Linked DNA regions of Homo sapiens. The protein of the gene in region 1 binds, or shares a complex with, the protein of each later gene. Each region holds a gene or a part of one and is shown in the gene's direction. Other genes may lie near its edges. The genes, in order: LAMTOR4, LAMTOR3, FNIP1 and LAMTOR1.

What was found.
Region 2: LAMTOR4 (region 1) and LAMTOR3 share a complex: the UniProt entries of both Homo sapiens proteins name them as parts of the ragulator complex.
Region 3: LAMTOR4 (region 1) and FNIP1 share a complex: the UniProt entries of both Homo sapiens proteins name them as parts of the lysosomal folliculin complex.
Region 4: LAMTOR4 (region 1) and LAMTOR1 share a complex: the UniProt entries of both Homo sapiens proteins name them as parts of the ragulator complex.

What each region holds. Positions count from the first base shown.
Region 1 is NC_000007.14:100,144,018-100,151,939, forward strand, and holds the start of LAMTOR4 (ragulator complex protein LAMTOR4), read left to right. Parts: upstream 1-4,900; 5' UTR 4,901-4,955; coding exon 4,956-4,958; coding exon of another isoform or gene 4,959-5,036; intron 5,037-5,481; coding exon 5,482-5,562; intron 5,563-7,922. UniProt on the Homo sapiens protein: As part of the Ragulator complex it is involved in amino acid sensing and activation of mTORC1, a signaling complex promoting cell growth in response to growth factors, energy levels, and amino acids.
Region 2 is NC_000004.12:99,877,811-99,884,427, reverse strand, and holds the end of LAMTOR3 (ragulator complex protein LAMTOR3), read left to right. Parts: intron 1-302; coding exon 303-366; intron 367-2,360; coding exon 2,361-2,434; 3' UTR 2,435-6,092; downstream 6,093-6,617. UniProt on the Homo sapiens protein: As part of the Ragulator complex it is involved in amino acid sensing and activation of mTORC1, a signaling complex promoting cell growth in response to growth factors, energy levels, and amino acids.
Region 3 is NC_000005.10:131,668,013-131,675,037, reverse strand, and holds part of FNIP1 (folliculin-interacting protein 1), read left to right. Parts: intron 1-2,113; coding exon 2,114-3,533; intron 3,534-4,406; coding exon 4,407-4,575; intron 4,576-7,025. UniProt on the Homo sapiens protein: Binding partner of the GTPase-activating protein FLCN: involved in the cellular response to amino acid availability by regulating the non-canonical mTORC1 signaling cascade controlling the MiT/TFE factors TFEB and TFE3.
Region 4 is NC_000011.10:72,100,298-72,107,391, reverse strand, and holds the start of LAMTOR1 (ragulator complex protein LAMTOR1), read left to right. Parts: upstream 1-4,094; 5' UTR 4,095-4,167; coding exon 4,168-4,209; intron 4,210-7,094. Other genes in the region: ANAPC15 (anaphase-promoting complex subunit 15), read left to right, coding at 1-41; TOMT (transmembrane O-methyltransferase), read right to left, coding at 1,182-1,440; LRTOMT (transmembrane O-methyltransferase), read right to left, coding at 1,182-1,456, 2,380-2,428. UniProt on the Homo sapiens protein: Key component of the Ragulator complex, a multiprotein complex involved in amino acid sensing and activation of mTORC1, a signaling complex promoting cell growth in response to growth factors, energy levels, and amino acids.

The sequences.
Region 1 (7,922 bases):
TCGCTCTATCATCCGGGCTGGAGTGCAGTAGTGCGATCTTGGCTCACTGCAACCTCTGTCTCCCAGGTTCAAGGCCTGAGCCTCCCGAGTAGCTGGGATTACAGGTGCCTGCCAATATGTGCAGCCAATTTTTGAATTTTTAGTAGAGACAGGATTTGGCCGCTATCGGGGGAAATTCACCCCCAATATTTCACATAGCTTCTTTTCTATATTCCCTAAGAGTCGGCCGGTCTGAGAAATAAAGGGACAGAGTACAAAAAAGAGAAATTTTAAAGCTGGGTGTCCAGGGAAGACATCACATGTCGGCAGGTTCCGTGATGACTAATAAAAACCAGCAAGTTTTTATTAGTGATTTTTTCAAAAGGGGAGGGAGTGTACGAATAGGGTGTGGGTCACAGAGATCACATGCTTCACAAGGTAATAAGATATCACAAGGTAAATGGAGGCAGGGCGAGATCACAGGACCACAAGACGGGACAAATTAAAATTGCTAATGAAGTTTCGGGCACGCATTGTCATTGATAACATCTTATCAGGAGACAGGTTTGAGCAGACAACTGGTCTGACCAAAATTTATTAGGCGGGAATTTCTTCGTCCTAATAAGCCTGGGAGCGCTACGGGAGACTGGGGCTTATTTCATCCCTACAGCTTCGACCATGAAAGACGGCCGCCCCACAAAGCGGCCATTTCAGAGGCCTACCCTCAGGGACACACTCTCTTTCTCAGGGATGCTCCTTGCTGAGAAAAAGAATTCAGCAATATTTCTCCCATTTGCTTTTGAAAGAAGAGAAATATGGCACTGTTCCACCCGGCTCACCGGCAGTCAGAGTTTAAGGTTATCTCTCTTGTTCCCTGAACATTGCTGTTATCCTGTTCTTTTTTCAAGGTGCCCAGATTTCATATTGTTCAAACACACATCCTCTACAAACAATTTGTGTTAACACAATCATCACAGGGTCCTGAGGTGACATACATCCTCCTCAGCTTACCAAAATGACGGGATTAAGAGATTAAAGACAGGCATAGGAAATCACAAGGGTATTGATTGGGGAAGTGATAAGCGTCCATGAAATCTTCACAATTTACATTCAGAGATTGCAGTAAAGACAGGCGTAAGAAATTATAAAAGTATTAATTTGGGGAACTAATAAATGTCCATGAAATCTTCACAATCCACGTTCTTCTGCCATGGCTTCAGCCAATCCCTCCGTTTGGGGTCCCTGACTTCCCACAACAGGCCACGTTGGCCAGGCTGGTCTCAAACTCCTGAGCTAAAAAATTAGCCGGGCGTGGTGGCAGACGCCTGTAGTCCCAACTACTCGGGAGGCTGAGGCAGGAGAATGATGTGAACCCGGGAGGAGGAGTTTGCAGTGAGCTGAGATCACGCCACTGCACTCTAGCCAGCCTGGGCGGGAAAAAAAAAAAAAAAAAAAGAGAGAGACAAACTCAATAGAAAAATGAGAAAAGAGTTGAACTGGGCCGGCATGGTGGCTCATGCCTGTAATCCCAGCACTTTGGGAGGCCGAGGTGGGTAGATCACTTAAGGTCAGGAGTTTGAGACCAGCCTGGCCAACATGGTCAACATGGTGAAACCCCCTTTCTACTAAAAACCCAAAAAAATTAGTCGTGCCTGGTGGTGCGTGCCTGTAATCCCAGCTACTCGGGAGGCTGAGGCAGGAGGATTGCTTGAACCTGGGAGGTGGAGGTTGCAGTGGGCCGAGATCGCACCACCGCTCTCTAGCCTGGGCAACAGAGGAAGACTATCTCAAAAAAAAAATAAATAAATAAGCCAGTTGCAGTGGCTCATGCCTGTAATCGTAGCACTTTGGGAGGCCGAGGCAGGTGGATTGCTCTGAGCTCAGGAGTTCAAGACCAGCCTGGGCAACACGGTGAAACCCCGTCTCTACTAAAAATACAAAAAAAAAAGCCGGGATGGCAACGTGCCCCTGTAGTCCCAGCTACTTGGGAGGCTGAGGCAAGGGAATTGCTTGAATCCAGGAGGCGGAGGTTGCAGTGAGCCAAGAGCGCACCATTGCACTCCAGCCTGGGCAACATAGCAAGACTCTGTCTCAAAAAAAAAAAAAAGTTGAACTGATACTTCACAAAAGATGATATCCCAAAAGCCAAACCTGTCTGAAAATGTGATCAACCTCATTAATATTTAGGTAAATGCAAATAAAAACTACAATGAGAAGCCATCGCATATCCAAAAACTTTACCCTAAAAGTGTGGCAATACTGGCTGGGCATGGTGGCTCAGGCCTGTAATCCCAACACTTTGGGAGGCTGATGCAGGCAGATCACGAGGTCAAGAGATCAAGACTATCCTGGCCAACATGGTGAAACCCATCTCTACTAAAAATACAAAAATTAGCTGGGTGTGGTGGTGCGCTCCTGTAGTCCCAGCTACTCGGGAGGCTGAGGCAGAAGAATTGCTTGAACCCGGGAACCAGGAGGTGGAGGTTGCAGTGAGCTGAGATTGCGCCACTGCACTCCAGCCTGGGCAACAGAACAAGACTGTCTCAAAAAAAAAACAAAAAACAAAAAGTGTGGCAATACCATGTGTTAATGGAGCTGGAGATAACTGGGAACTCTGACACATTGCTAGAGGAGTGTGAGTTGGTCCAACCAGTTTGATTTGCAGACCATAGATAAAAAAGATAGGAAACTCTCTGATTCATTTTATCTGGCAACCTGCTCTTTCTACCAAAAGCAGATAAAGAATATACCAAAAAGAAACTACAGCCCAATCTCATTTATCATAATAGATTTTAAAAATTCTAAATAAAGCAGTAAAACAAATGGGTAGTATAATTTGTTCCAGCAGATTTTATTCCAGAAACACAAAGATGGTTAAATATCAAGAATACTGCCACCATAATTTATTACATCAAAATCTTTTTTTTTTCTTTTGAGACGGAGTTTCATTCTTGTTGCCCAGGTTGGAGTGCAATGGCACAATCTCAGCTCATTGCAACCTTCGCCTCCTGGATTCAAGGATTCTCCTGCCTCAGCCTCCCCAGTAGCTGGGATTACAGGCATGCACCACCACACCCACCTAGTTTTTTTTTTTTTTGTTTGTTTGTTTTGTATTTTTAGTAGTGATGAGGTTTCACCATGTTGGCCAGGCAGGTCTCGAACTCCTGACTTCAGGTGATCCACCCGCCTTGGTCTCCCAAAGTGCTGGGATTACAGGTGTGAGCTACCACGCCCAGCCTTGAAATTGCTGTTTCTAACAAGTCTTAAAAGACACCCAGACTTTAACAATTGTTATTATATTCAGATTTTTTTGTTGCTTTTTGAGACAATCTTGCTCTTTTACCCAGTCTTGAGTGCAGTAGCATGATCATGGCTCACTGCAGCCTCAACCTCCTGGGCTCAAGCGATTCTCCCACCTCAGCCTCCCGGGTAGCTGGGACTACATGTGCAGTATCATGCCTGGTTAATTTTTAAATTTTTAGAGATGGGGTCTTGCTATGTTGCCCAGGCTTCTAGAATCATTCTTCATATTATTTCACTAACACAGCCTCCACCACATTAATATGGCAACAGGTTTAGAAATTATTTAAAACAAAAATTTCTAATGTTTACATATATTGTGTGATGTGTGTGTGTGTGTGTGTGTGTGTGTGTGTGTGTATCATTCCAAGGTACTGTTTCTAATTTTTTCCTGTAGGGAATGAATATTCAGTATTGCAGCTGCATTGGCTAGCTGGGGATTCTATTTACCACCACATTGTCCCGGACTGAATCTGGGGACAAAAAAACCACTTCGGGAACAAATTCTTGTCTTCAACAAAGAGCTGTCTTGAGTAGGCACAAAAGTAGCATTTGAGGGCCGGACGCGGTGGCTCAAGCCTGTAATCCCAGCACTTTGGGAGGCCGAGGCGGGCGGATCACGAGGTCAGGAGTTTGAGACCAGCCTGGCCAATATGGTGAAACCCTATCTCTACTAAAAACACAAAAATAGCCGGGCGTGGTGGTGGGCGCCTGTAATCCCAGCTACTCGCGAGGCTGAGGCAGGAGAATTGCTTGAACACGGGAGGCGGAAGTTGTATTGAGCCAGAGATCGCGCCATTGCACTGCAACCTGGGCGACCGAGTGAGACTCCGACTCAAAAAAAAAAAAAAGTAGCATTTGAGTACCTTTTTTTTCCTTTTCTTTTCTTTTTTTTTTAGAGGAAGGGCACCCAGGCTGGAGTGCAGTGGCACCATAATAGCTCACTGCACTCTGCAACTGCTGAGCTCAAGAGATTCTCCTCCATCAGCCTCCCTAGTAGCTGGAATTACTGGCGTGAGGCACCATGCCCGGCTTATTTTCTTATTTTTTTGTAGAGGTGGTTGGAGCGGGGGGACTGGGGAGGGTCTCGCTATGTTGCTCAGGCTCGTCTCGAACTCTTGCCCTGAAATGATCCGTCCTCGGCCTCGCAAAGCGCTGAGATTACAGGCGTGAGCCACGGCGCCCAGCCTTGAATAGTTTTTCACATGCATTGCACGTTATTTCCTTTTATTCTCTAGTTTTTGGGTCCAGTCTTAAACCTGGGAAGGGATTCATTTGGGGGGGTCACACCAGCGGGCATCCTGGCTCAGGCGGAACTCTGGCTCCAGACAGTGCGCCCAGGACCAAACGGTCAACCCCGGCCTACTCCCGCCCCTCCCAGATCCTCCCCTCCTCGGACGCTCCCGCGTCTTCCTCTCGCTCAGGCACTGAGGGGCGGGGAGATGGGTGTTAAAGAGGGGATATCACCAATCAACGTGCGCCTCCGGGAAACAGCGCTTCGCACTGGCTGGTTGGGTCTGACGACGTGGCCACTGTCCAATCCTCATGCTAGAGGCGGGGCTAAAGGCCAGTGGCGCAAGCAGAAGGAGGAGCGCAGCGGCTGCAAGCACGTGACCGGGGCCTGAAGCCGGAAGCTACCTATCTGGTAGGGAGCTCCCCCAGCACCGAAGACTGCGATGGTGAGTGAGGACGCATGCGCGAGAGGACCCGCCGGGGGTTCAGCGTCTCTGCTCCCCAGTCTGTGTGGTTTCCCCCTGGTGGGCCTGCGCTCCACCCTCACCTCCTATCCGCTCGGGGAGGAAGAGGGGATGGAAATGGGAGGGATGGCGACGAGAATGCTGGGGAGGGGTCTGTGGGAGGGTGTTCTGGGGCTGCGGGTAGTCTGCAGGTCGGGCGGAGACGAAGGGAGGTGAAGAGAGGGTCTGGGGGCAGGGGCCAGTGGGGCAGCAAAGGCCCCTTGGGGTAGCAAAGGTGGGATGTGGAAGGCCAGGGGAGCCCGGGGGCGAGAGTGGGGGCAGATGGAGGCTCGGGAAGATCAGTATTGAGGACCATGTAGGGGGGAGGGGGCCGGGAAGGGACCTGGCTGGGGAATGAGAAAACCTGGGGCCATCGTCAACCCAGAGACTTGGGTTTGCAGGTGAAGGGTATCGGGCCGTCCATCCCTCTAGCATGCTTCTCACGACTTGCATCTTTACCCACTAGACTTCTGCGCTGACCCAGGGGCTGGAGCGAATCCCAGACCAGCTCGGCTACCTGGTACTGAGTGAAGGTGCAGTGCTGGCGGTGCGTTCTGGGAAAGGGAGGGGGTCCCTTAGTGCACACAGCCCGGTAACCCCTTCTAATATTGGCCCTTCTTTTCTCGGCTTTTATCTGGTTTCCTGCCTGGCATCTATTAGGTTGGTACAAAAGTATTTGCAGTTTTTGCAATTACTTTCAGTAATCAGTCTGTGGAATCTTAGTCTCCTAACGGCTGCGATTTATTTATTTATAGTTTTTGAGACTGAGTTTCGTTCTTGTTGCCCAAGCTGGAGTGCAGTGGTGCGACCTCGGCTCACTGCAACCTCCGCCTCCGGGGTTCAAGCGATTCTCCTGCCTCAGCCTCCCGAGTAGCTGGGATTATAGGCACGTGCCACCATGCTCTGCTAATTTTTTGTATTTTTAGTAGAAACGGGGTTTCACCGTGTTAGCCAGGCTGGTCTCAAACTCCTGACCTCAGGTGATCCACCTGCCTCAGCCTCCCAAAGTGCTGGGATTACAGGCGTGAGCCAACATGCCTGGCCTTTATTTGGTATTTCTTAAAAAGGCATTTGTATTTTGTTCCATAGTACTGTATGGTGTTAGGTCTCTAGATTACAGGCGTGAGCCACCACGTCTGGCCTTTATTTGGTATTTCTTAAAGAGGCATTTGTATTTTGTTCCATAGTACTGTATAGTGTTAAGTCTCCAGATGTTTTTGACTTAGGTAGAGACAAAGCTTAAGGTTAAGGGTTGAAAACAATACAGGTGGTAAAGACTATTGAGGGAATCCAGGATATTAAAAATTCAACATGTTATGACAAGGTAACTAACTTTCCGGGAGGTAGGAATTCAGCCCACCTTAAAGGAGAGTATTTACAGTGGGGGAGGACTTATTTGCAGGTGTGTGGCACTAACCTATCTGAACTGATGGTAAGTTTATGCTGAAAAGATTTGGGAAGGTTTGAGGGAAGAGAGGAGGATATGGTCAGGGAGGATGTAATTGTGAAGGATCTTCAAGGCCAGGTTAACACACTTGAACTTATTCTTGAAGGTAATACAGTTTGAAAGGTTTTTTAAAACAGAAACAAGACCCAGTGAGGTGGTTGAGCAATATTGTTGTTAGTGATGTGAAGATGGGCAGAAGGAGGCGTCATTAAGAGATGAGACTGGGCTGGGCGTGGTGGTTCATGCCTGTAATTCTAGCACTTTGGGAGGCCAAGGCGGGCGGATCACGAGGTCAGGAGATCGAGACCATCCTGGCCAACACGGTGAAACCCCGTCTGTACTAAAAATACAAAAACAAAATTAGCCAGGCCTGGTGGCGGGCACTTGTAGTCCCAGCTACTCGGGAAGCTGAGGCAGTAGAATGGCGTGAACCTGGAAGGTGGAGGTTGCAGTTAGCCGAGATCACACCACTGTACTCCAGCCTGGGCGACAGAGCAAGACTCCGTCTCAAAAAAAACAAAAAAAAAAAGAGATGAGACTGGGCAAGTGGTGGTAAGAAGGAGGAGCAAGGAGAGAAGAGTTTTGTTTTTGTTTTTTTTTGTTTTTGTTTTTTGAGACAGAGTCTCGCTCTGTGGCCCAGGCTGGAGTGCAGTGGCATGATCTCAGCTCACTGCAACCTCCGTCTTCCGGGTTCAAGTGATTTTCCTGCCTCAGCCTCCTGATTAGCTAGGATTACAGGTGTGCACCACCATGCCCAGCTAATTTTTGTATTTTTAGTAGAGAGAGGGTTTCACCATGTTGGCCGGGCTGGTCTCGAACTCCTGACCTCATGATTTGCCCGCCTCAGCCTCCCACCCAAAGTGCTGGGATTACAGGCATAAGCCACTGCACCCGGCCTGTTTTTTTGTTTTTGTTTTTGTTTTTTTTGAGACGGAGTCTCACTCTGTCACCCAGGCTGGAGTGCAGTGGTGCAGTCTCCCCTCACTGCAAGCTCCGCCTCCCGGGTTCACGCCATTCTCCTGCCTCAGCCTCCCTAGTAGCTGGGACTACAGGCGCCCGCCACCATGCCCGGCTACTTTTTTGTATTTTTAGTAGAGATGGGGTTTCACCATGTTAGCCAGGATGGTCTGGATCTCCTGACCTCGTGATCCGCCTACCTCGGCCTCCCAAAGTGCTGGGATTACAGGTGTGAGCCACAGCACCCCGTCCTGTTTTTTTGTTTGTTTGTTTTTTTTTAAGATAGAGTCTCGCCGTCACTCAGGCTGGAGTGCAGTGGTAACGATCACATCTCATTGTAGCCTTGAACTCCTGGGCCCAAGCAATCCTCCCGCCTCAGCATCCCAAGTAACTAGAACTACAGGCAAGCACCACCACGCCCAGCCATTAAAAAAAAAAAAAAAATGTGTGGAGACAGGGGCCTTGCTATGTTGCCCAGGCTGGTCTCAAACTCCTGGCCTCCA
Region 2 (6,617 bases), on another chromosome or scaffold:
TAAGTCCTTACAATGTAATTGATATTCTGTTGGGCTTTAGAGATAAAAAGATGAAGATATGGTTTCACCTTAAAAACTTTCCAGGCCAAATGGTATTAATGTCTCTAAGAGATCATCACTAATTCTGTTTTATGGAAATATTCACTGAAATATAAAGTTCCTTTCTGTTTCATAATATAATACCATAATGTTGGGCTAAAACATTGATGATTTTAAAGTTTTTGAAAGATTAAGACATTTCAGTTTAGTTATACTACCTTTTCATAATGCAACATATTATTTGGCTCTTATTTTCTTTTTAGGTGGTTCAATTTAATCGTTTACCTTTGGTGGTGAGTTTCATAGCCAGCAGCAGTGCCAATACAGGTGTGTTTAATGACCTTAAATATCACTTTAATCCTTAATTTTAAAAAATTAATTTAATTACCATACCTTAATTTAAGAGGAATAGTAGATTTAGAGCCAAAAATCTTGAACTTGTGGCCCAGTTTCACTGTCTTTTTTCCATGTCTTGGGAAAAGTGATTTCTCTGAATCCTGGTTTCCATATCTGTATAATGGAGATAATATATGCTTTCTCCATCTTACAATGTTATTTTCTAGTTCAAATGAGACAGTGTATGGGTAAGTGATTTTTTTTTTTTTTTTTTGGAGACAGGAAAATTAAATGTTATCTGAGTGCTACATCTTGCTCCCATTACAGCAGTTTAAGAAAACAAGGTGAAGATAACCCAACAAAACGCATTAAAATGATCGATGAGTTACAGACCAATCTATTAAATTAGAATTTTTTAAATTTTACCTAATGGGGAAAATGAATGTGATTGAGAATTTAAAGAGCATGAATAGGATGAACATAGTCTCACTCTTCTTGAGAACTGAAGAATTTGAGAACAAATGCTAGGAAGCTGTACCCTTTATAGAGAATAGTAAAATTCCATTGTATCCAATACCTTCACTGGATATTTATGTGTAAAATAATGACTATTCACTTGGTTGTAATTTTTTTACTTCATTTTATATAAAGTAGGATTTTTATTAAAAGGTCTGTCTCCTTTAGATTTGATTGCTGTTGAGAATTGTAATATATTTTTTTCTATTTGTTTTTTCTTCCAAACTGAGCAAGTTCTTCTAGCTATGTCACTGAAGCCTGTTCTTAGATACCTCATCTTTAGAATGAGAGGTTTAGATTTGATGATCTATTAGATCTCTTCCATTTCAAAACATTTTAGGAATCTGTAAAATACTGTATGTAAAAACACTTTCTGAATTATATAGGATAGTAATGGTGTTAAGATTTTAAGTATATTTAGGAAATATACTAAATCTGAGTTTTGATAAATCACCTATCATCACATACTAAGTCACCAGTTGTTATATACTATGATAATGTACAGAACAATATTTTAGTACTTGGACCCTTTCCTTGAGAGTTCAGATGCTTTTTATATTCTATAAGACAGAGAAAGATCTTTATTTGTTTGAACATAAAACAGGCTCTGTTTGAGGCAGATAGCCTTTCACTCTAGTAAACTAAGGAGAAGCAAGATATGCTTATTTCTAGATGTTTATCTCCCAGGTTCATCATTGAACTCCAGTGTGTTTTGTACTCTACCATTTATTTTTAAAATATTTTTTCATTTGAAATATTTATTTATGTCTTAGCTTTGTCAAATTTATAAAAATAAATTTCTGATTTTCTTTGTTCAATATAGAAGCACCTATCTTTTGATATAATCTGTTAAAATTTGCTTAGAGACAAAAGTATGCTTTATTTAGTAAAAATCATATGTATTATTTCTGAGTCAAGGCAAATTTTGAAGCAGTAAGGTATAAATTAAGATTTTCCTTTCAAAACTCTTAACAAATTATAGTGCATATAATTTATTCTGTATTTCCTAATATATAAGTATTTTTCACTCATTCACTTTAGTAATAGATGCTGAAAATAAACTTATTAATGACTACAAAGTTTTTGGTTGCTTTATTTAGGGTTATAGTACAGGTTGAACATCCCTAATCCAAAAATTTGAAATCCAAAACATTCTAAAGTCTGAAACTTTCTGAGCACTAATATGGCATTCAAAGAAAATGCTCACTGGAGCATTTCATATTTGAGATTTTTGGGTTAGGGATGCTCAAATAGTAAGTATTGTACAAATATTCCAGAATTCAAAACACTTCTGATACCCAGCATTTTGGATAAGGGATATTCAACCTGTATTTTGTTTCAGTCATGGGAAATAAACTATGTTCTGATTTACTTTTGGTAACTATGTATTTTGGACATAAGGAAATCTGAGTTTCAGGCTTTGAGGAACATTTTTCTAACATGTAATTTTCTTAATCTCTTTATTTTAGGACTAATTGTCAGCCTAGAAAAGGAACTTGCTCCATTGTTTGAAGAACTGAGACAAGTTGTGGAAGTTTCTTAATCTGACAGTGGTTTCAGTGTGTACCTTATCTTCATTATAACAACACAATATCAATCCAGCAATCTTTAGACTACAATAATACTTTTATCCATGTGCTCAAGAAAGGGCCCCTTTTTCCAACTTATACTAAAGAGCTAGCATATAGATGTAATTTATAGATAGATCAGTTGCTATATTTTCTGGTGTAGGGTCTTTCTTATTTAGTGAGATCTAGGGATACCACAGAAATGGTTCAGTCTATCACAGCTCCCATGGAGTTAGTCTGGTCACCAGATATGGATGAGAGATTCTATTCAGTGGATCAGAATCAAACTGGTACATTGATCCACTTGAGCCGTTAAGTGCTGCCAATTGTACAATATGCCCAGGCTTGCAGAATAAAGCCAACTTTTTATTGTGAATAATAATAAGGACATATTTTTCTTCAGATTATGTTTTATTTCTTTGCATTGAGTGAGGAACATAAAATGGCTTGGTAAAAGTAATAAAATCAGTACAATCACTAACTTTCCTTTGTACATATTATTTTGCAGTATAGATGAATATTACTAATCAGTTTGATTATTCTCAGAGGGTGCTGCTCTTTAATGAAAATGAAAATTATAGCTAATGTTTTTTCCTCAAACTCTGCTTTCTGTAACCAATCAGTGTTTTAATGTTTGTGTGTTCTTCATAAAATTTAAATACAATTCGTTATTCTGTTTCCAATGTTAGTATGTATGTAAACATGATAGTACAGCCATTTTTTTCATATGTGAGTAAAAATAAAATAGTATTTTTAAAAATATAGTTTGAGCACTGTATAGGTCCTTTTTTTGTTCAGACTTTTTCCAAAAATCTAAACATAATTAATATACTCTTTCAGCCACATGAATAAATAATGAGTGTTTCTTGTAGGTATTGGTTTGGAGATTGTTTTACGGTAGTATGAACTGTTAACTGGAAAAGAAACCTGAGATTGCAGTCAGCCAAGATTGTGCCACTGCACCCCAGCCTGGGCAACAGAGACTCCGTCTCAAAAACAAAAAAGAAAAGAAACCAAGAAACCTCAGGCATGAACCTAATTTAATCTCCATGAAAGAGGTACTACAGTTCTAGAATATACCCTTTATGTTCAGGAATGCAGTCTATCATTCAGAGTTAATTTCTTTCTAGGCTCTTTGACAATCAGTTTTTCCCTGGATCAGTTCAGTACATATGCATTGAGCACCTGTGTGCCAGTCAGCCGAGCTATCACATTGCACAATTCTAAGAAGCACCATTCATGTCTCATCATATTTCTATGCTCTGGGAGTTGCCTTTCACATAGAATATGTGTGATTGTTATCCCTAGAATTGTGCAGTGAGGCAATTGGCTAGGTGCTGTGCTGCTTTTTCTTTCTTTCTTTTTTTTTTTAAGAGACAGAGTCTTGCTGTGTTGCCCAGTCTGGAGTGCAGTGGTGGCATGATCTTGCCTCACTGTAACCTCTGCCTCCTGGGTTCAAGCTGTTCTCATGCCCCATTCTCCCTTGTAGCTGGGATTACAGGCTTACACCATCGCACTTGGCAAATTTGTGTATTTTTAGTAGAGACAGGAATTCACCATGTTGGCCAGGCTGGTCTTGAACTCCTGACTTAAAGTGATCCACCTGCTTTGGCCTCCCAAAATGCTAGGATTATAGGTGTGAGCCACTGCACCGGGCCATGTGCTACTTTTTCTTCCTTCCATCCTTCCTCCCTTCTTCAGTGTAAATATGAGATTAATTTGTGATACCTTACTTTAAAGAACTTAGAGTTCAGTAAAGGAAGCAGGTATAGAAAGTGCTATGATAAAGCTATACATAGGATGGTATAGAACCACAGACTAGGGGCACTTAAAATGGGCAAGAAAATAGCCTTTGTAAATAAAATAGAGGCAAGAGATATAATGCTTTACCTGCAAAGAGCTATAAATACAGCCATGTACCATATAATGATGTTTCAGTTAGTGAAGGACCACATACGAGGGTGGTCAGAACAGCAGGCTATACCATATAGCCTAGGTGTGTAGTAGGCTATACCATATAGCCTAGGTGTGTAGTAGTAGGCTATACCATATAGCCTAGGTGTGTAGTAGTAGGCGATACCATATAGCCTAGGTGTGTAGTAGTAGGCTATACCATATAGCCTAGGTGTATAGTAGTAGGCTATACCATATAGCCTAGGTGTGTAGTAGGCTATACCATATAGCCTAGGTATGTAGTAGTAGGCTATACCATATAGCCTAGGTGTGTAGTAGTAGGCTATACCATCTGGGGTTCCTGTCAGTACAGTATGATGTTCACATAATGATGAAATCACCTAACAAAGCATGTCTCGAAATGTATCCACATTGTTACGTAACACATGACTGTAGTTAATTGTTACAATTGAAATACTAGATGTACTCATTGAAATCCAGAATTCCCATTATCTGGATTATTTAATATCGTTCAGGAAATTTTTGCCAGTGCAATGGTGCATGAAACAATGTCTTTTAGAAATGAGGTGGCCAGATTTCTATTTGCAGATAATAATTGTATATCTAAAAATCCTAGAAAAAGAAATGATAACAAATGGAGCTACTTAACCTTTACATGTTGAATGCTGCCACTGTTAAAATTTCTGAGGGGGTATAATAGATAAACTATCCCATAGTTCATCTGGAAAAATAAGGTGGTGAAAATTGCTAAGAAATTTTTGAAAGGGTAATGTAAACCTAGATTAACTGTTTTTGAAAGGTAGTACAGAACTGAATGCACAACTAGATATCAATGGTATGTACTCACCCAGAAAAAAGACTTCAGTACATACATGTGAGGGCTTAAAACATTGTTATAAAGACGGGATCACAATGGGAAAAGGATTATTCAATAAGTAGGGCAGGCATTCTCTATGCCTGCTAGGGAAGTGTGACTTGTTATACTCTTTATGTACAGCAATTGGCAGTCTGTGAAACTTTTAAATTCATATACATAACCTTTTGCCCTGCAATTCCACTTCTAGAAATTTATCCTACCAAACAAAGCACATAGATGTGCAAAAGTATGTATTTACAAGTATATTCTTTGCAACTTGGTAATGTCAAAGAATTGGAAGCAACCTAAATATCTGCCATAGGTAGGATAACCATATGCTTTGGCTTTTTGAACACTACCAGTTTATACCTGCTGTTCTTGGATAATTATTAATAGTGCTTTCATTCTCAATGTCTCACTTTAGATAATAAATTACAGAGGATTGGTGAAACTAATTTGCCCAATGGAAAAAGGAATGAAGAAGTGCTTTAGGTACTGAGATGAAAAGATCTCTAAGGCATAATAATGTTTATTGAGAAAAGCATGGTGTCAAACTGTATGGCATGCTACAATTGATGTATAAGAAGAAAAAATGTGTATGTATTCCTATTTGTTTGTATATGGTAGACTGTCTCTGAAGACATATATGGAAGAACCTGATCACATTGGTAGTCTCCAAGGAGCAGAACTAGATACCTGGGGGATAAGGATCCCAGGAGTGAGCCTTTTCATTGTAAACTTCATTGTACTTTGAGTTTTTAACTGTTCAAAAATAATAAAATTAGAAATAAAATATTTCAACAAACAATAAAATGGGATATTTGGGGAAGAAAGTTGTCTCAGGGCTCTCCAAAGAAGCAGAACCGGTTGGACATATGTGTATTTATTTCAAGGAAATGGCTTATACTATTGCGGGGACTGGCAAGTCTAACATCTGTTGGACGGGCCAGAAGACTGAAAAGTCTCAGGTAGGAGCTGAGGCTGCAGTTTCAGAGCAGAAGTTCGTCCTCTTGGAAACTTCAGTTTTGCTCTTAAAGCCTTTCAGTTGATTGGATGAGTCTCACCCACATTATGGAGGATTATCTCTTTTACTTAAATTTAAGGGATTATAAATGTTAAGTACATCTCCAGAATACATCCACAGCAGTACCTGGATTCATGTTTTAATAACTAGGCAATGTGTCCTAGCCAAGTTGATGCATAAAACTAACGTTCACAGTCCATTCCTAGTCAGCTTGGCACCTGTATGCATCTTTTTTGTTGTTTTTTGTTTTGTGAGACAGAGTCTCACTCTGTCACTTAGGCTTGAGTGCTGTGGCCTGATCTCAGCTCACTGCAACCTCTGCCTCCTGGGTTAAAGCGAGTCTCCTGCCTCAGCCTCCTGAGTA
Region 3 (7,025 bases), on another chromosome or scaffold:
AAAGTGGGAATCATGAAAGACTCACTTGCCATGCCAAAGCAATTTCAACTTACTTGGTAATTTGTGGGAATTATGGGAGTAGTTTAGAACAGTGGCATGGTGATATTTGAGCCAGTGTGTTAGCCAGAAGAGAAAATTTATCATAATAGTATCTATAGCTTATATTTATTTGAGACCTATTTATATTTGTTCCTTTAAAAAGTGTGAGGGCTTTGTAAAGTAAAAATAGAGGATTTTAAATGTGTATACTGACAACTTCAAAAATTGAATTAAGTTGAAATTAATGGCTTTGTATTCTCCTTTTTTTTTCTTTCTTTCTTGAGACAGGGTCTCACGCTATTGCACAGGCTGGAGTGTGGTGGTGCGATCACAGCTCACTGCAGCCTCAACTTCCTGGGCTCAGGTGATTCTTCCGCCTCAGCCTCTCAGGTAGCTGGGATTACAGGTGCGCGCCACCATGCCCAGCTAATTTTCTGTATTTTTTTGTAGAGACAAGGGTTTCGCCATGTTGCCCAGGCTGGTCTTGAACTCCTGGGCTCAAGTGATCAGCCTGCTTCCACCTCCCCAAATGCTGGGATTACATGTGTAAGCCACCATGCCCAGCCCTATTCTCCATAGTTTTGGCACTGAAATTACTGGTTTAATTTGAAGTATAGCATAAATATAGAAATGCTAATTTCTAGTCCTGCCCCCCTCACCTCCCCTGCTTTTAACATAATGGCTAGTCATGTTTAGAATGGATTCAAAAGTGAAAATGAACTGCATGGCTGAACTTGTTGCCCTTTCTTTTCCTTTTAGTAAGGATGAGTCTCTCTCTTCCTGCCCTTTCTGGCCTATCCTGAGTACCCAACCCTCTAGGGAATGGAAGGGGAAAATAGGCTTTTACAAACATGGGAGCTGGTGGGGTGGGGTGCTGGCTAGAGGAACAACAGTTAAAGTTCAGAGATATGACTTACTTTTTTATTTTATTTCTTTTTATTTTTTATTATTTTTATTTTTTTGAGACGGAGTCTTGCTCTTGTTGCCCAGGCTGGAGTGCAGTGGTGTCATCTCGGCTCAGTGCACCCTCTGCCTCCTGGGTTCAAGTAATTCTCCAGCCTCAGCCTCCCAAGTAGCTGGGACTACAGGTGCCCACGACACCACCTGGCTAGTTTTTGTATTTTTAGTAGGTACAGGGTTTTACCATCTTGGCCAGGCTGGTCTTGAACTCCTGGTCTCAAGTGATCCACCCATCTCGGCCTCTCAGAGTGCTGGAATTACAAGCGTGAGCCACTGTGCCCGGCCCCAGAGATATGATTTAAATCAGGAATGGTTAAGTGTGTGGTGTGACGACTATAGCTTTGCTCCATTTTACCACTACTCCTTTCCTCTCCTTGCAAGCCAGTGGATATTGTGCTTTGTCTTTTCTTGATTGGACACAGCTACAGAATCCTTGTGTACATAGTACTTCAGGCAGTACTTCTCTAACAAGGTAAAAATGCTCTGCATGGAGCCTGGGTTAGAGAATATTCTTGGGATATGTGAGTTTCAGAACTGACTCTTTGCTTGAGGTTTCTGAACCATAGCATTTGTTTAAAGAGGAAACCAGAAAACCCTTAAATTCACCTTTCTCTCTGGTTAAGATTATTCATCTCATCTTCCTCCCTTGAATAGTCACTCATCTGTTAAAGAACTAAGAGTGAGGCCAGGCATGGTGGCTCACGCCTGTAATCCCAGCACTTTGGGAGGCCAGGGCCAGTGGATTGCTTGAGCCCAGGAGCTCAAGACCACCCTAGGAAACATGGCAAAACTCTGTCTCTACAAAAAAAAAAAAATACAAAAAATTAGCCAGGCATGGTGGCACGCGCTTATAGTCCCAGCTACTCAGGAGGCTGAGGTAGCAGGATCACCTGAGCCTAGGAGGCTGAGGCTGCAGTGAACCATGATTGTACCACTGCACTCCAGCCAGGATTACAGTGTGAGACCCTGTCTCAAAAAAAAAAAAAACAAAAAAACGAGTAAAACCTAAACTATTACTCATACAGTAAAAGAAGTAGGTTTCTGATCATTAAAAATAGCTTACTTAGCTGTGTCAGTAAAGGACATGTCCAATAACTGATTTTTTCCATTACAGGAGACTTGTATGGCGCTATTGGCTCTCCCGTACGGTTAGCAAGGACTGTGGTAGTTGGCAAACGACAAGACATGGTCCAGAGGCTACTTTATTTTCTTACTTATTTTATAAGATGCTCTGAACTTCAAGAAACGCATCTTTTAGAAAATGGAGAAGATGAAGCCATCGTTATGCCAGGCACAGTAATTACTACCACTTTAGAGAAAGGTGAAATAGAAGAATCAGAGTATGTCCTTGTCACAATGCATAGAAACAAAAGCAGTTTGCTCTTTAAAGAGTCAGAAGAAATTAGAACTCCCAATTGTAACTGTAAATATTGCAGTCATCCACTCCTTGGGCAAAATGTAGAGAACATTTCACAACAAGAGAGAGAAGATATTCAAAACAGCTCTAAGGAGCTGCTAGGAATTTCAGATGAGTGCCAGATGATTTCTCCTTCTGACTGCCAAGAAGAAAATGCTGTTGATGTTAAACAGTACAGAGATAAATTAAGAACTTGCTTTGACGCCAAGTTAGAGACAGTTGTTTGCACAGGATCTGTTCCAGTAGACAAATGTGCATTGTCAGAGTCAGGCTTAGAGTCAACAGAGGAAACATGGCAGAGTGAGAAGTTGCTGGATTCAGACAGTCACACAGGCAAAGCAATGAGATCCACAGGAATGGTTGTGGAAAAAAAACCTCCAGATAAGATTGTGCCTGCTTCATTTTCTTGTGAGGCTGCCCAGACAAAGGTTACTTTCCTGATTGGGGATTCTATGTCACCTGATTCAGATACTGAGCTTCGAAGTCAGGCAGTGGTGGATCAGATTACCAGACATCACACCAAACCATTGAAGGAAGAAAGAGGGGCTATTGATCAGCATCAAGAAACTAAACAAACAACCAAGGACCAATCTGGAGAGTCTGATACACAGAACATGGTTTCTGAAGAGCCCTGTGAACTTCCCTGTTGGAATCATTCAGACCCAGAAAGCATGAGCTTATTCGACGAATATTTTAATGATGATTCAATCGAAACCAGGACTATTGATGATGTTCCATTTAAAACAAGTACAGATAGTAAAGACCATTGCTGTATGTTAGAGTTTTCAAAAATATTGTGTACAAAAAATAACAAGCAGAACAATGAATTTTGTAAATGTATAGAAACAGTTCCCCAAGATTCATGTAAAACCTGCTTTCCTCAGCAGGACCAAAGAGATACACTCTCCATTCTTGTCCCCCATGGGGATAAAGAGAGTTCAGATAAAAAAATTGCTGTAGGAACTGAATGGGACATTCCAAGAAATGAAAGTTCAGACAGTGCCCTTGGGGATAGTGAAAGTGAAGATACAGGTCATGATATGACTAGACAAGTTAGCAGTTATTATGGAGGAGAGCAAGAAGATTGGGCAGAAGAGGATGAGATACCTTTTCCTGGGTAAGTAGGAAGTTTTCACCTATAATGGGCCCTATATAAATATGTACCATTCTCTTTTTTAGCTGTTCTCTGAAGGTTAGTATAAAAGAGATCATTGTTCTGGATAGCTCTCTTGTTTTCATATTCTCTTAACTCATAAGAAGGAGTAAAGGCTAAGCTCCAGAAACACCCTGGAAAGGTTTTATGAAGACCTCAAATAAAAGTTAAAGGATCTGGTTGATAAGTATAAGATTTCTTACTGCTTAGAAGGTTTCAAGCCATTTAGGAGTGACTTATGCCCCCCAAAGGACATATGCTGAGCCTGGCAGTTAGGGAGCACTAATCCCTGAGATGTTAGAATAGCTGTTAGAAATAGATTTGGCCAAGACTAAGAGGAAAACAGAGAATGTATACTTTGGGTCAAGTATGCAAGGAGAATATTCATGCTTGAGAAACATTACATACCTAGCTTTGGACTTGTGAGGCATTTAATTGTTTTGTTTTAGATGATTGTTTTCATAATCTGATTGTATTAAGAATGTGCTACAAACACAAGGTACAATTCTCTTAAAGTCTCTTAGGAAAGATTGATCCTCACTTCATTACTCAGTTGCTCATCAGACCTTCTTCTCTGAATAAGAAGGAGTATTTTATTTTCTGATAGAGCACTTGAGCCAGTTTTTAAATAACGATGATTTTACTCTTGATTTTACTATTATTACCATTTTACTCTTAATTTTTACGATTGTTACCATTATATAAGGATGATTTTACACTTGATTTTAATACAGACTAGTGTAAAATATGGACAAGTAGAATTCACTTTTTTTTTTTTTTACTGGTTAAATATATTTATTACTAAATAAATGTCTTTTGGGGGCATTTTTCTTCCAGGTCAAAGTTAATCGAAGTGAGTGCTGTTCAGCCCAACATTGCCAACTTCGGGAGGTCCTTGCTGGGTGGCTACTGCTCATCTTATGTGCCTGACTTTGTTCTTCAAGGAATTGGGAGTGATGAGAGGTTCCGTCAGTGTCTGATGTCAGATTTATCTCATGCTGTGCAGGTGAGTGACCTTCACTGTTTTTGAGTTTATTTAGAAGAAACTCTGTTAAGCAGCAGAACCCAAAATTGCCTTATATTTTTGGTCATACTTTTTACAACACAATCATTGTTCTCTGAATCCATCATTTTATATTCAGTGCCCGTATCTTTGTATCTGTCACTGTGAAAGCAAATAAAGTTCCAGAAATCTATCCACATGGATATCTGAAATACAGAAAGTACTTTATGTATTCATGGATGTCCATCAACTAGGTTATTTATAGTATCAAAAATTTGCAAGTGCTTAAGTTTGAATGGAATTATTTTCTTAATTTCCTTTTCAGATTACTCATTGCTTACATATAGAAGTGGGGTTGGCTTTTGTGTATTGATCTTATATCCTTTGGTCTTTCTGAAACTCTTATTAGTCTATTCATTTTTCTGTATAGGTTCCCTAAGGTTTTCTACACACAGGCTCATGTTATCAGTGAACAGATAGTTTTAAATCTTTCTTAACAATCTGGATGCCTTTTGTCCCCGCTGCCCCCAACTTTTTTTTTTTTTTTTGACTCATTGTACTGGCTAGAATTTTCAATACAATGTTGCATGGAAGTGGTGACCATGGACATCGTTGCCTTATTCCTGATCTTAGGGGAAAGACATTGCATCTTTCATGATTAAGTATGTTGTTAGTTGTAAGGTTTTTGTGATGCCCTTTATTAGATGGAAGAAGTTCCCTTTTTATTTTTATTTTGTTTAACCGAATACTTCTTTTAGAGACAGGCAGTTCTCTTTTATTCCTAGTTTTGAGACGGTTTGGTTTTTTTTGTCCATCCCTTAATCATGAATGAGTGTGGGATTTTGTCATATGCTTTTTCTCAATGTCTATTGAGATTGTATTGTCGTGTCATTTTTCATCTTTAAACTATTAATGTCATGGATTTCATTAATTAATTTTTAGATGTTAAACCAACCATTGTATTCCTAGGAAGCAATTCCCACTCTGTCATGGTATATAATTTTTTTTATGTGTTGCTGGATTTGATTTACCAATATTTTATTATGGACATTGGAGTCTATATTCATGAGAAATATTGCTTTTTAGTTTTCTTGTGATGTCTTTGTCTAGCTCTGATATCAGGATAATATTGGCACATCCTCTATTTTCTGGAAGAGTTTCCAGAAGATTAGTACTACTTTTTTTCTCTAAACGTTTGGTAGAACTCACTAGTGAAACCATCTGCATCCAGGCTTTTAAGAATAAGAATATTTTAAATTGCTAATTTAATTTCTTCACCTTTTATACATTTAGATTTTCTATTTGTTTCTGAGTCCATTTTGGTAATTTTTGTCTTTTAGGAATTTATTAGTTGCATTTAAGTGGCCTAATTTACTAGAATCAAGTTGTTTATATTATACACTTACAATCCTTTTAGTTTTTATAAGGTTGCTAGTGATGTCCCCTCTTTTGTTCCTGAATTTTGTAATGTGTGTTTTTGTTTGTTTGTTTTTCAAATGGTGAGGGCTTCTCCAAAGAGAAGTTCATTCGTGGTTTCACTTAAATTGTATATATTTTTTGCCCATATACATCAAGGATTAGCAAGCTATGGACAGTGGGCCAAATTGTCCTGCTTTTTATAGATGAAGTTTTATTAGAACACAACCACAGTCATTCATTTATATGCTTCTGGCTATGTTCATGCCTAACAGCAGAGTTGAGTTATTGAGACAGAGACTTTTCAGCCCCCAAACCTAAAATATTTCCTGTTTGTTCTTATTTTATTTTATTTCATTTTTCTTGAGACAGAGTCTAGCTCTGTTACCCAGGCTGGAGTACAGTGGTGCCATCTCAGCTTACAGTAACTTCTGCCTCCCAGGTTCAAGTGATTCTCTTGCCTCAGCCTCTGGAGTAGCTGGGATTACAGGTGCCCACCACCACACCTGCCTAATTTTTGTATTTTTAGTAGAGATGAGGTTTCACCATGTTGGCCAGGTTGGTCTGGAACTCCGACCTCAGGTGATCCACCCACCTCAGCCTCCCAAAGTGCTGGGATTATAGGCGTGAGCCACCGCACCTGGCCAAATCTGACAAATTTCGATCTGTTGTATTTTCAGTTTCATTCATTTCAAAATGTTTTTACATTTTGCTTGTAATTTCTTTGACTTATGAGTTATTTAGAAGTATGCTGTTTAATTTACAAATATTTATGGAATTCTCAAAAGTTGTTTTGCTGTTGGTTTCTAATTTAATTCCATTATGGTTGGAGAACCTACTTTGTTCACCTCTTGTAAATTTATTGAGACTGTTTTATGGCACTTGAAAAGAATATATATTCTGCTTTTGTTGAAATGTTCTATAGCTATCAGGTCAAGTTAGATAACCTTTAGATAATAGTCTTAATTAAGTCTTTTATGTCCGTGCTGATTTTCAGTTTGTTTCTGCCATCAATTATTGAGAATGAAGTATTGAAG
Region 4 (7,094 bases), on another chromosome or scaffold:
CAACCACCCTATCTTTCAGATTTATGAAAGGTCTCTGTTAGAATTTGTAGTTTCATTCCCCTTTTATTGCTCATCAAATGTATTTCTGATCTTGGAATTGGATGAACTTTTATTTATTTATTTTTGAGACCAAGTCTTGCTGTGTTGCCCAGGCTGGAGTGCAGTAGCATGATCACGGCTCACTGCAGCCTTGACCACCCAGGCTCAGGCAATCCTCCCACCTCAGCATTTCCAGTAGCTGGAACCACAGTTACTCACCACCACACCCGGCTAATTTTTAAATTTTTTGTAGAAACGGGGGTCTTGCTTTGTTACCCAGGCTAGTCTCGAACTCCTGGGCTCAAGTGATCCTCCTGCTTTGGCCTCCCAAAGTGCTGGGATTACAGGCATGAGCCACCATGCCCAGCCAGTGAATTTCTTTTCTTTTCTTTTTCTTTTTTTTTTTTTTTTTGAGACAGGTTCTTGCTCTGTCACCCATGCTGGAGTGCAGTGGCACAATCACAGCTCACTGCAGCCTCAGCCTCCTGGGCTCAAGCAATCCTCCCACCTCAGCCTCCCAAGTAGCTGGGACCACAGGCATGTGCCACCATGCCTGGGTAATTTTTGTATTTTTTGTAGAGATGGGTTTTTGCCATGTTGCCCAAGCCGGTCTCAAACTCCTGAGCTCAAGCAATCTGCCCACCTCGGCCTCTCAAAGTGCTGGGATTACAGGCACCAGCCACCACACAGCCGAATTTCTTAAATAAGACCCTAAAAGCACTTATGCTGGGATTGAGATAAATCCAGGCAGACAGCTACCCTAAATGGTATGTGGAAGCCTCCATGGTGGAGAGGAAAGATGTGGAGACAGATAATTACAAAGCTATGGGTTATCTGCTGAGATGGTTATTCCACTGTGTATTATGGTTCCTTTGAGGCCAGCATTTGTGGCTCATTCATCTCTGTGGCCTCTACCCCTCTCCCTGGCACCTAGCACATTCCTAATACAAAAGAGGTGGCAATAAATGTTTGCTGAATAAATGACTTAGTCCAAGCTCCTCATTTCCAGATGAGAAAAAAAAGAGGCCCTAAAAGAGGATCAAGAACCTGCCCAATTCATCCAGTTAAGCAGCAACAGATCCCAAATATTCCTTCACTGTCTTGGGGGTACTTCTTGGAGCAGAAGGCTAGGGAACACTGACCTTTGACAGGCCCCATGTGGCTCAAGTACTCGCAGCGGCTGCTCCAGTGGTCCAGGGTGGTGAGGATGTGACCAGGGTCACCGGGCAGGGCATGGGTGAGCACGTAGCTGAAGGCCCGCTCCTCGATCCGCAGCCCTGACAGGCAGTCTCGGAGGCTTCGCAGCAAGACCGTGCGCACCAGCAATCGGAAGTAGTGCCGGTACCGCACCAGCAATGTTACCACCAGTGGCAGGAAGGCCAATGCAATGGCAGGGGACATGGTCCCTACCTGGGCCCTGGGGTGGAGGGAGGTAGGGAGGGAATCCCATACCCACAATTTGCCTATTTGTGTAGCTTTTGCCAGTAGCAATTATTATCCTTATATTTCACAAACCACGGCTCAGAAAGGCTAAGTCTTTTGTCCAGAGTCACAGAGCAGAACTGGGATTTGAATCCAGGTTAGTGTGATTCCAAGCCTGTGTACTTTCAAGGACTCTATACTGTCTACTTTCAGCACCCAGCCCCAAACCACCTCTTCCCGGTCCCAACCCCTGGTCCCATCTTCACATTGTTCCCCTGACTTGTTTCTCTTTATCCTTGAAGTCACCCCTTCTTCAGGACCCCTTTCACTAATTCACCTCTGGGATATCTTCCCCCACCCCTACCCTCTGCCTGCCTGGTCTCCTCTGACCACTGCTGTGTAGCAAAAGAGCATAGATTTGCAGTCAAAAACACCTTCACTATCACTGTGCCCTGCCTCAGTAAAATGCAATCAAAATACCCCATAGGGTGTTAGAGTGAGATGTCCTCTTTCCCACCCCAGGACTCTCCCTCTGCCTGCTCTTCCCTGAGGATGGGAGGAGTCTTTGATTCTTTAATAATTCTCCAGCCCCATCTCCTCTCCGCTGTATTCCCCTCTTCTCCTGTGCTGTCTCAGAATTCCCTTCACAAATGTGTACATACACATAACACACAGCACACATTTTCCCTCTACTCAGCTCTTCTCTCCAGGGACCTATGGGGAATGGGCCTCTCCTCCCATGTCCTGGACCATTCTCCTCCTCATCCAGATCTGACCTCCTTGCCGGCCTTCTTGCAAGGCCCCTGGTGATGGCGGGGAGTAAAAATGAAAGAGTGTATGGATGGGTGTGAATAGGTGAGTGATGCGGTGGGCTTGAACTGGTGAGCTTGGGAACCCACAATCCAGGGCCCTGCTTACCTGGGCTGGAGGACCAGAGCACAGGACAGGTCGGGGAGTCCAGGGCCTGCTGCGGGGGATAACCCTGAGGTAGGAGGCTGGAATGGCTTTCAATTATTCATGCTGAGGCTGCTGCTGTCACCTGAGACCTGCAGTTCAAGTTACCAGCCCCAGGGACGAGCTTGAGCTGCCTCCTACCCTTCAGGAACCTCAAAAGATTTACAGAACCTCAGGGTCTTGATTTGAGGGGTTATAAGAGGTATGAGATCTGGTGACTTCTCCAATACTTTGGATCAGAAGATGGGGCATGGGGTGAGCCAAGGTGATGGGGTGACTGTAACATGCTCATTGATATGCAAGTTTTCTGTAAGCAAGGCCATGCCTTGGGCTACAGGGAAGAGTCAGAACCTGTCACTGTGCTCCAGGAACTCCCAAGTTTGGTAGGTGAGACTGACCCAGGAACAGAGAATACAATATAGTGTGATCACTATTGGATGTTCCATGACTACAGGGACTTTGGCTGTTTTGTGAACTGCTGCATATCCAGATATAACAATGTGTGGCACATAGTAGACGCTCAGCAAATATTTGTTGATTCAATAAATGCATGAATTAACACTGGATGAGGATTAAGCATAGGGAGCTGGGCATGTCCAGAGAATGGAGTCAGAGAAGGTAATCAGGAGGACATTGTACTGAGTCTCGAAGACAGTAAAGACAGTAGGCAGACCAGGCTGCATGTACAAAGTCCAGTAGATCAATCAGGAAACTACATTATTTCTCTATGTCCAGTGAAACACATTGCTGACCCCTCCACCCCTCACCCCAGAACATGCAGTGGGAGAGGTGTCAGGCTCTTGTTATGTCAGACGGGTAATGTGCCAAAACAAGATTTGAGGGTGGCACATTTGATACATGCTGGTGAACACCCAATCACACGCTCATGAACAACAAATGGATCACTATACAATCTTGGACGGACTTGGACCTGTGTTCAGGGCCCAAGGGAAGACATGGAGCGGGGGTTAGGAAAAGAGAACTGATGGTCAGCTTTGTGCGTTCGATTACAATGGGTGCTGTTAAAAAAGGCAGAATTAAAGATAAAAGCCTGAAAGCAGAGAGGTCAGTGAGGTGGCTTCTATCTCCTCTACCAGGATTTATCTCCGCTGCGCGTCAGCATGTGAAGGTAGTATAAGGTCCCTTCTTCCTGTAAGTCGCAGATCCCCAGCCCAGGTGGAGAATACACCCTCTGTGTATTCACCCCCAGCCCAGCTGGGCGATACACCCTCTGTGTTCCCCGACTAGGTACTGGTCATCTGGATCATCTGTGTGTGTGCACCCAGACCGTACGATCTGGAGCATCAGGCCTGGATCCCAGTCGCCCCTCGCATGGCATTTAGAAGAGTATATCACAAGGGCATACGAGGGCATTTGGTACGAGTTCGCTCAATGGCCCAGAAAAGTGGCCTAGTGGCCACGAGAACGCATAACACAATTCACGATGGCCACTACTGCCAGTTTAGAGACTGGAAAGATGAAGTCATGTGATCCGCCCCGCCCTTTCCCCGCATCACGTGCTTGCGTGTACGGTTACGCCTTCCCATTGGTTGACAACGATCACGCGCTAGCGGGCGGGACCGGAAGCCGGGGTATTGACTGAGGCGGCCAAGCGGCTCCGGGACAGGGGGTACGGGGGGTGGGGGCGGGTGGTTGCCTGCGGGAGGCCGCCGCGGGTCATGTGACCGGAAGGGCTCCTCACGGACGCCGTCCCTCCTCGGCGCGGCCTGAGCGCCCGGCCCGACCCCGGCCATGGGGTGCTGCTACAGCAGCGAGAACGAGGACTCGGACCAGGTGCGGCCGCGGCAGGCGGGGCTCGGGAATGAGGGCTAAGACACTGGGGCATGGGGCCCAGAAAGAAACCTGCGGAGGACGGGCAGCCGGACTGCAGGGCTCACTGAATACGGAGGCCTGGAGGGGACAGATTACAGAGGAGACGCCAAGCCGGGCTCCTACCCCTGTTAAAGCCCCAGATTTCTACACAGTCCCCGCCTCGGGGTGTGCAGGCAGCCGCCTGTCCGGCTCGCTCCCACCACTTCCGTTTGCTCCTACCTTCAAAACTTTTCAGATTCAAGGATCCTCAGTCTAGGTCCCCGGGAAACACTCCCTTCCCCAGCTTCCTGTGTCTTCTGTGTATTAGTGGGCTTTGCGAATCCATTTTAGGGGTGGGTAAGCTGAGGCCCTGAGTTAGTCTGTCCTGAGATGAATCAGGAATTCGTGTATCGTCTTAGTCCCTGGGGTTGCAGAAGGAAGGTCGCTGCTAGTCTAGGGCCAGGGGACGACTCTGGAAGTTGGTGGCCTTTGAATTGGCCAATGAAGGATTTAATCGATACAGTGAGGACATCGGGACATGTGGGAAATTGTCTGGGAAGCAACAAAGAGGATTTAGCTTTGGCTAGATTGTGGGAAAAGAGAAATGGAGCGGGAAGTTCATTTGGTTCTGAGTTTGGCTTGCCTCAGTGCAGTCTGCCTGGGGCCTGAGGGTTCCTTTAGCTGGAGACATGCCTATTCTGAGAATTTGGCTGTAGATCTGATACCTTTGGAGAAAGGGTTAGGCTGGGGAGACCTGTACAGTTTTAAATTCTCCCTCTTCCTCTTAGTGCATTCTCACTTCTCCCCACACTCTAATCCCTGCCCTGCCTGGCCTGACATTCAAGGATGAAGTCTCAAGTTGCTGTCTACTCTCCTTTTTTGATCGTCTCTAAGCCCGGATTCTACATTTGAACATATAGTAGACCTGAGAGAGTAGAAAGGTTTCAGGTAGCTCACGGTCTAATGGGGAAGATGGTCACAAAAATAGATTATATCACTGGTACTTGGGAAGTAGTTCGTTCTTCAGTGAACGTATTTTGGATTAAGGGCTTAAGCCTAGGAAAATGTCGTTTGTATGGGAAGCAAGGGTGGCTTCTGGTTCTCAATTCTCCATACACCCAATGAACACATATTTCCTTTGCCCTGTGTTAGGCATGTGTTGTGCCTAATACCTCTCACTTCACTTCCACCTTTTTGAGAAAGAGACAACAATAACCCTGCCTACTGGGAGAGCTGTAGCCTAGTGGGAAATTGTCCCTTAAAGCATAATATGGACTCTTGCAGGGAATGAGTCAAGAAGGATTAATGCCGTATGAGAAAGGATACAAGCTTCTACTTGGAAGGGAGAGCTGGGCCTGCTGCTCTCCTGAATCTCTACCTTCTCCTTGGGGGGCTCTCATTTCTGTTCCTAACACCCAGAGAAGGTGCTTAATCACTGCTGGGTGATTTGAGGCCTCATGTAGCAAGGGCCATAACCATCCACCATCCCACAGTCCCTCTTTGAGTTCTTGGGCAGGCCCCTCTCCGACTCTCATCTCTGTCTCTTTATCATAATAAAAAATATACAACACGTTACAGTTTACAAAGGGCCTTCACAGTTATCTAATTTGACTCTTGCCAGACATCCGTCATATTAGTGTGGGTTATGTCTATTGAAAGGTGAGGAAGAAGTTCAGAGAAGCTAAGTGATTTGGCCAAGCTGAGAAGTGCTAGTGCCCAGGTGTTCTGACGCTAGGCCATGTACTTTATCCATGGGGCCAAGCTGTCTCAGCCATGCCCCTAGACCAGGTGGCCAGTCACGGGCAGGCTGCTATGTCTGTGCTAAGGTAGACAGTGAAACCCTGCCTCTTGGGTTACACTAATGCAGAGACAAACCTTGATGTGACAAACCTAACCCATGCTCCACTCGCACTTTGGGAGTGGGGTGATGTTTGTCTGCTCTGAAGTAGGTAGCATGGCCTCTTCTTTAAGTCTGGGTTTCAAGAAAATAACCTTGTTGTTCACTTGATCTTAGCTGAAGGCTGAGAAGTGATCAGCCAACCTTCTTCTTGAAGAACCCCTGATAGGGAAGAGACTACCCTGTCCTGCAGGAAGATCTGTCTGAAGTGGAGCTGGGAGGACAGACACATAGGAAGCTAACTTGGGCCTCATTATGGAGCCAGCTTTCCTTAGAAATACATAGTTTTATCTTTGGCAAACATTTTGTCTTTTTAGCTCTTTAATACTGAGCCTATGTATTTAGGGAGGAAGGGTGTCTGGGAGTTTATAGAGGTGATGGGGCAAAGCCCACAGCTTCTGTCTCTTGCTGTTGGGAACTGGATCAAATTGCCTGAGGACACTTGGGCAACCTAGCCTTGAGAAAGAAGAGTAAGGTGAAAAGGCTGGGCCTCCCTAAGCAGGGCAGGAGGAAGTAGCCCTCTACAAGGAGAGTTGTGGAGTTGTGGGCAGGGGAGCTGCGGCCTGCAGCAGGAAAGACTGAGGAACTGAGATAGGCCTGGAGGGGAGCATTGAGGAGTCTGGCACTGAAGGTTGGTGAGTCAGCATTAGCCAGGATGTCCCCCTGGGCCCATCCTTGGCTTTGTTCAGGGCACTCTTGCTCTTTATGGGTTGGATAGATACCCAGCAGGTCTGTTTTTCTCATTTACTGCTGATACAGCAAGCAAGGATTTGCAGCTGATGGTCTCAAGGCAGGGTCAAATCCAGAAATATTACAGTAGATAGAACAGGGGACTGAAAGAGGACAAGGAGGAAGACCAAACCAATGAGGAAGCTTGGTTTGGTCTTACATTAGTTCAGGGGTTGTGATTATCAGCACAGGCCAGCAGGAACAGGGCTGCTGAAAATTTACATGGGCTACTCAGGTGGTT